2 linked regions of the Homo sapiens genome follow. The protein of the gene in region 2 purifies or fractionates together with the protein of the main gene of each other region. This does not show direct contact. Each region holds a gene or a part of one and is shown on either strand. Other genes may lie near its edges. The genes, in order: RMP64 and SCML1.

Region 1 (3,824 bases), on a different chromosome or scaffold from region 2:
GAAAGAGGCCAACAAATCCAGTTTGTCAGAAAGAAACATTTAATAGGGACTTATGCACAGAAGCCATGTCTCAGGCAGTGATCCCCACAGTTACCCCCCGACCCAGGGCTTATATGCCATAGAGAAAAGGGGGTACATGAAGGAACATGTGAGACACTGAAGTCACCTCCTCAGGGAAAGGCAAGAATGCTGTTTACAACTTAGCCTATAACTTGCTTAAGGCCAGGATTTACAGTGTGTGTGTGTGTGTGTGTTCTTTTAATAGATAAAAGTAGAAATCTTAGAGGGCATTCCAGGAACTGGTTATCAGAAGTCAACATGGTAGATTAGCATCCAAGATGGAAGTTACTTTAGCCTCATACTGTGCCTGTGAATTTCTTTGAGGAGGGGATGGGGTGGCCCCACACCTCTTCCAGGTTGTACATACCCAAGTGCTAGGCAGTTCCTGTAGCTGGTGAGAAGCCCAGGGGCAGGAAGTGAGACATCCCCAGAGCAAGAGGCAAGGTTCAGCCCTGCTTGAAACTGGTTGCCACAGCAGTGACTTTAGTATGAAGGCCAAGAGGATTGGAAGTGACACACAGGAGGTCTCAAACACTGCTCTTATAAATGGCCTGTGTGTCCTAATGCCATCAGAAGTGATAAAGTTGGTACTAGGATGTGGGTAATCCCAGCACTTTGGGAGACCAAAGTGGGTGGATCCCTTGAGTCCAGGAGTTTGAGACCAGCCTAAGCAACATGGTGAAACCCTATCTCTACACAAAGTTTTTAAAAAATTAGCCAGGGCATGGTGGTGCCTATAGTGTCAGCTACTCAGGCGGCTGAGGTGGGAGAATAGCTTGAGCCCAGGAGGTGGAGGGTGCAGTGAACTGAGATCATACCACTGTGCTCCAGCCTGGGCAACAGCACAAGACTCTGTCTCAAAAAATAATAATAATAATAATTCACTACGATGACCCTGACAATAGTTTCTAATCTCATTTACTAGGTAAGTTACAGTTTGGTATACTTTAGATTGCATTTTTTTAAATGTTAAATATTTGGATTTATTTGGAAAAAGTAACTGATACAGAATACTGAATTCCTTATAAACATACAAATTGTCATTTTGTGGACACATGTGAAGCTTTTTTGCCATTTTCCCAGAATAGTAAAGGGCAGAAGATGGGAAAATGAGAGGAGATGAAGATACTCCAAAAGAACATGAATGAATTTGGAAACAAATGCTAGACTGGCAGCCCAGTCCATGCTATATTGTCCTTAACTCACTGAACCACCCTGGTTTTTCCAATGAAAGATAAGCTCCAAAGTTTATTTCAGCTATAAAAGTTTCATTCTTGAAAAAATTCCACTTCAAATCCAGAAACCTAAGCCTGAGGAAACTGACTAGCTCAGTGAAGCCACAAGTAGGAGAAGCAAGACTGAACCTTAAATCTCCTAATTCCCAGGGAGTTTTTTTCTGAATCAGCTAAATGAAGTATTAAAAGAGGCTACTTAGGGGACTGGGTGCATGAATATAGACAACTCTCAGCAAATAAGCCCTATGGTCCACAAAGCTATACACCAGTTCTCTTACTAATTTACCTTCTATTTCCCAATAGGTAAAGGATATTCATTGAACACAAGGACACTTAGAAGTTAATGGCCATTTCTAGACTTGTCTAGAATGAAATCTCCTTGGTATTGTCTGTATTTTAAGGCACTAAATGGATACTACCACTTGGTAGAAAGCCAAAAGGAATATGAAAACTGACTACAGATTAAGAATTAAACCAGTTTACTTAAGGCTTCAGGAGAGAAGCTAAAGTAGTGTTTATATAACTGGATTTGGGGGCCACCTGGATCAAAATCACTTGGGCTCCATGTTAAAAATGCAGGTTTCTGGCCCCTGTTTATCAGTCTCTGGGAAAGGGCTAATCTGCATCTTTTAGCAACCCACCAGGTGATTCTCAAAAAGTCTAAAGTTTGAGAACCACTGGTAGAGATAACTGAGAAAATGGAGAAGGCAGACAGGGAAAGAACAAAGCCAAATAAAGAATGGAAGGGAAATAACTTCTGTTATGATAGGGTGGCTGAGGAAAAGAAGGATGCGGTACATACTAAGGTACTACTTTCTTTTTCTTTAAATCTCTATGTAACAAAAGTTAAGGGCACTAGAGAAGCTTAATAACCTAATTCTAGTAAAGTTAGAACATTGGAAAGATACCTACCTCAAACTTCACATCATTATTTGAAAATACTCAAGATGTACTCCCCTCAGAGCAACAGTACGAGCAACATCCCCTATCAGATGACAGCATCAACACCAAATTATAAATGTTCTAGCCTCATTCCTGGGTCTACTTTGTATCTCCTAACCTCATTTTTTCATTTTACTTTCTCATCTACCTGTTATCCTATTATATTTCATATGTAACCATAAACCACCTTATTGCCTTTTTGTAAAAAGGTTTATTTGGAATCAATCACTGGTACCCAAATAAATAAAATTAAAACGTTTTGGAGAACTCCAAACTCACTTTAATATGAGATAAGCCAAGCAAATGAAGAGAAATAATGGTTGTAACCAGTCCCTGGTAATACAAGCAGTGGCAAACCTTGTTGATCAATTCCAACATATAAACAAGAAAACATAAATGTCAGGAGCTACAAACTTTAGTATTCAGAGGCGGACCTATGTATAATGGAGCCAATAAGACCAAATTGACCTTTCAGGTGTTTCCTTGCTATCTCCCACCCCCGCTCCTCATTTACCTCAAGACACAATGGTTTTTGCAAACGATTATTAAATTGCCTAGTAAGTCATAAAATTATTCAGTTTTTCAGAGACTTACTAGCCTCACTCAAGGAATTACATCTGCTTCTCAAGGGTAGGCTGTGGCAGATTTTTCATATTAACACCTGACATGTAGTTGAAGCCAAAAAAGAAATACTTGTTGATGAAATGACACAATGCTACTTTAAATGTAGACTGAACTGAAATGAACTCCTGTGCAATGCTGCACTAAAGCAGCTCCTCTGTGAGTCCAGGTGGTACTTCCAGATCTTAGCAGTTCTACTTAGAACACTGAACTAGCCTTGTTAATCACTTAAAAGTCTCACATATGAACGAACATCTAAACTCCCATTAAAGCAAAAATATCATCAATGTCATCTGTCTCCTTAATGGTTCCTGATGTACTGTTTTTATTTATTTGCATCACCGTCCACGAATCAGTTTCATTTTCATGGATGCCTCTAAGATTTTCATGAATCATTTTCTCCTTAGTTTGTATGACAGGCATTGAAACTCCACTATTCAAGAGCTGCTTACTGTTAGGGTAGAGATCAGTTCTATGCACAGTACAGTGTGAGAGTCTCCACTTAGCACTGGTATCTGTAGCACTCTTCCGAGTCCCTTGAGAGAACTGCTGAATTTCCCTTAAAAGAGTCGACTGCAACTTTCTCTGTGGTTTCCTTTGTCTCCGTAAAAATTTATTCTGTGATCTTCTCTGTCTCAGATGATGCTTTGAAGTTTTGATACCTGAGCCACGAAGAAGGTGGTTGCAAATAGACGTTTTTATGCACTCTAGTTTCTTTGGCAAACTTTAAAAGACAGAGAGAGGAAAAATCTGGGCTTAAGATGAGAAAAACATTCTCAAGCACTTTTAATTTACCAACTGAAAAGAAAAATACACAACTTATCTACAAGTCCTATGCCTGTGTACAATCCCAGAACCACATCGAAAAATTTCACCCCAAGTCTGTTTTTTGAGAGCACAAATGCCCTCTGATTGAAGTGTAGACGAATGTGTCCCCATTTTGCTTTCAAACTCTCAAAAGTACAG
Region 2 (3,824 bases):
TTTTATTTAATTCCTCTTTCATGTTTAATTGCATAGTAATAGAGATTTTGGTCAAAGGTTTATATGTTTAAAAAATAACTGAGATATGAGACAGTTTAACTGCTCATACTTCAGAAAGTTTTAGCTATGCTCTACACTAAGTTGTGTTGAAATTTCTTTGTGTACTGACAAGTATCCTTTTACTCACCCACAGTGTTAGACTCCCTAAAATTAGTGTGTGATGACTAAAGTGGGTTTTGTAATTAGTTAGGAAAATTTGTTTCTCCAACCAGGACCATCAACACAATTTGATCTTTTTGTGTGTGTGAATTAGCCAAAAACATACCCTTTCTTCCCTACCATCTGGGCTCTTGCCATATCAGGAGTGTTTTTTATTTATCTAGGGAAAGGGTAAATAAAAATAGAAGATTTGGAAAAGCACAATGGGGCAGAGTTCTAGAAGTGCTACTCACCAGCTCTGTGATCGTGGGGATGGCGTAATAAATGTGCCAAAACCATGGGGTCATTATGAGTATAAGTGGAGAAGAGGCATGTCAGCTGATTGGTGCAGTGCCTTGCACATAATATGCATTGAATAAATGTTAGTCATCATTCTGAATATCACCTAAAACCAGCCCTCAAAATAGGAAACGAACAGCTTCCACTAGTTTGCATCAAGGATGTTGATAAATATAGGTCAAATAGTGCTACTTGTAAATATGGCATTTCAAACTCACCAAACCAGAAGGGAAGCAGAGAGATGATCCAGTATACCTATTCTCCATCAAAGCTGAGTAACTCATCATCTCAGGGGCATGTACCAAATTGGGCTCTCCCTGGGCCAGCATACCTGAAGGTGGTGCTGCAGAAGCATGGTCAGTTGAGTAAGTGTTGTGGATGCTGTCAGCCCGAGGGTTGCCAAGGCAGAGCCCTGAAGAAGAACCATACGTTGCACCATCAGATGCATAATACGGCTGACAATTATGCTCAGAGAAATCTGAGGGATGCACTGGACTCGGAGTGCGGCTGAGGATCGGGTCCTCCTCCAGCTCAGCTCGCTGGTATTCTTCCATGCAAAAGGATGGCCTTGGAAGGTTGCTCGGGGAATTATTCTCACGCCTTGACACTGGTAAAGTGGGGCTGTAACTTTCAGGGTAGGAGAATGTCTCGTAAACCTCATTTTTCTTCATTTTCTGGAGTTTAAGCTTTTTAACAAGCCGGTAAGAATGCTTTTTATATCCATATCGCTTCTGAAATCACACAAACACAGCATAAACCAACAGTGAGTAAAAAAGTAAATAAAATTAGTAGCAAATACATTAATACTTATTTTCCATGCAACATTGCTTTACATTATTAAAAATAAATGGTCCCTTTTGATTATATAATTCTTCAATCCTACATTTTAATTGTATTTTACACATTATAATTACAAACATAAAAATAGGCAGCATCATAAATTATCAAACCTAAACTTCAGCGTTCTCCCAACAGAGTTTAGTCTCCATCTACTGTTACAAGTATAGACATGCCTTGCTAATCTCACACAGATACTGGTACTCTCTCACTTCTAGCTCATTGGCATCTTTACAAACCAGAGGTTTATCACAGTTGTAAAAATGTTTTTTATAACACTTACATGATTTGTCCACAGGGATCTCGCATGGAAACGTTGGATTTTTGAAACCTTTCTACGAATCACATCAATCTTCTTATCCAGGTTTTGCAGAGCATCATATATAACCTATTATAATACAATGTAGTCATATAATTGGTATACAATGTAAAATATAATTTTTTATTTCAAAGAAAAGTAACGTGAAAATACCATTAAGTCAAATGTTAACTGCTAGACACAACAAAAGTTCTCAAGCCATCAGAAATGTCTTGCTCCTATTCAAGGCCTGGCTGTAGGTGACACAGAGCCAACAGGCTGAGCTAGAGTAGTCCCCTCCCCTGCTCTACTCCATGTAGGAATTGAGGAAGCTCTAATGCTGGTGAATGAATGTCCCACAATGCCTCTATGCTAGCACATTGATGATGAAGACACTGCACATCAAGGAAGGTGCTATTTTAGGAAAGAAATCTGCTAAAAGAACAAAGACTCACTTTATGATATACATATGTAACATATATGTTCATATATGTACAAATATGAAGTCTATATTATATACAGACAGTGAGTGTTCCACTCCAGAAAGAACACTGAACCAAATATAACAGATGTGACTTTTGGCTTCAAAGTATTTTTAAATCACGCAGTCAGCAATTAATCTTACAAAACCGTTAAGTACACATCTCTTACGCGCCAATCGAACACATAGGAGACTGATAAAAGTCTGAGAATTCTTCTTGAAATACACAGAGACTTTGGGCAAAGAAAAATACACTTAAGCAAAGGGCCAGAAACATTGCAATCAAGCACATAGGAGGCTGATAAAAATCTGAGAATTCTTCTTGAAATACACAGAAACTTTGGGCAAAGAAAAATACACTTAAACAAAGGGCCAGAAACATTTCCTCATTCATTCATTCATTCATTCATTCACTCATTCAACTAAACCTTTATTGATGGCCTACCACCTGGCAGAACTACTTTGCTAGGTATTGAGAACATGGACCGAAAAAAAAAGCTCCTGGCCGGGTGCGGTGGCTCATGCCTGTAATCCCAGCACTTTGGGAGGCTAAGGCAGGTGAATCGCTTGAGCTCAGGAGTTGGAGACAAGCCTAGGCAACATGGCGAAACCCCCGTCTCTACCAAAAATACACAAAATCAGCCAAGCGTGGTGGTGCATGCCTGTAGTCCATGCTACTAGGAAGGCTGAGGTGGGAGAATCACCTGAGCCTGGGAAGTTGTGGCTGCAGTGAGCCATGACTGAGCCACTGCACTCCAGCCTGTCCTAGAGGAACTACCATCTCAGCTGGGAGAGAGACAAGTAAAAAGAGGATTCCAGCAGACAAAGTGATAAACAGCCTGGAACAGTGGTTTGCAAAGTGTGGTCCACGGACTGGTAGCATCAACATCACCTGTAAGCTCATCAGAAATGCCAAATGCCAGGTTGTACCCCAGACCTATGGAACCTGGAACTCTGAGAGTGGGGGCAGTGGTCTATGTTTTCACAAGCCCCCCAGGTGATTCTGATGGCCCTAGTGAGAACCACAGGGCTGCGGCACTGAGATAAACAGTGCAGGCTCTTGGGGAACATGGTTGGGGTCAAATACTACAGTCCAGCCACTTATTGGCTGTGTGACCCAGGGCAAGTTACTTAACCTCTCTGTGCTTCAGTGTCCTCATGTAGGGAATCAGGATGAAAAGCTCTCTCAGGGTTCTCTCGAGGACGAGAACCTTGCTATAGTATTAGGTTAATACTAACAGTAACAGCACTACACTACACCCGGTCCAACAGTGCTCAGTGGTCTCTTCATGTTACTATTGTTATTACCAGTGGCGTGACACAGGTGGGAACAGGAGGCTAAGCCTGCACAGAAAAGCAGTCCTAACCCAGGCTGCAGTCACGGAGACCTTTTCAGAGGAGGTGAGGTCTGAAGTGAGAATTAAAACATGAGAAGGCCCTCGCCAGGTGAGGATGCATGGAAGGGCTTACAGCATAGAAGGAACAGCAGGTTCATAAATACCCAGAGAGAAAAACAGGAAGCCAGGTGTGGAGACAGCAAGTATGAATGACATTCCAGGAGTGGGGCTGTCACAGGAAGAAGAGAGTGAGGATGACAGGAAAGGAGGGATGGGAAGCAAGAGAAGTGGCTTCTCCAAGATGTGGGAGAACTCGTAGAGGGGAAGGAGGGACAGGGACTGGAGCCAGAGGAGAGAGAGGGGGATGCCCGAT

Evidence for each region.
Region 1: the proteins of SCML1 (region 2) and RMP64 purify together in Homo sapiens (affinity purification with mass spectrometry, with the first as the bait; one large-scale study listed by BioGRID). This does not show direct contact.

The regions. Positions count from the first base shown.
Region 1 is NC_000003.12:113,002,423-113,006,246, forward strand, and holds the end of RMP64 (nucleolus and neural progenitor protein), read right to left. Parts: intron 3,609-3,824; coding exon of another isoform or gene 3,583-3,608; coding exon 3,114-3,582; 3' UTR 22-3,113; downstream 1-21. UniProt on the Homo sapiens protein: May play a role in cortex development as part of the Notch signaling pathway. Downstream of Notch may repress the expression of proneural genes and inhibit neuronal differentiation thereby maintaining neural progenitors.
Region 2 is NC_000023.11:17,747,299-17,751,122, reverse strand, and holds part of SCML1 (sex comb on midleg-like protein 1), read right to left. Parts: intron 1,724-3,824; coding exon 1,619-1,723; intron 1,230-1,618; coding exon 830-1,229; intron 1-829. UniProt on the Homo sapiens protein: Putative Polycomb group (PcG) protein. PcG proteins act by forming multiprotein complexes, which are required to maintain the transcriptionally repressive state of homeotic genes throughout development.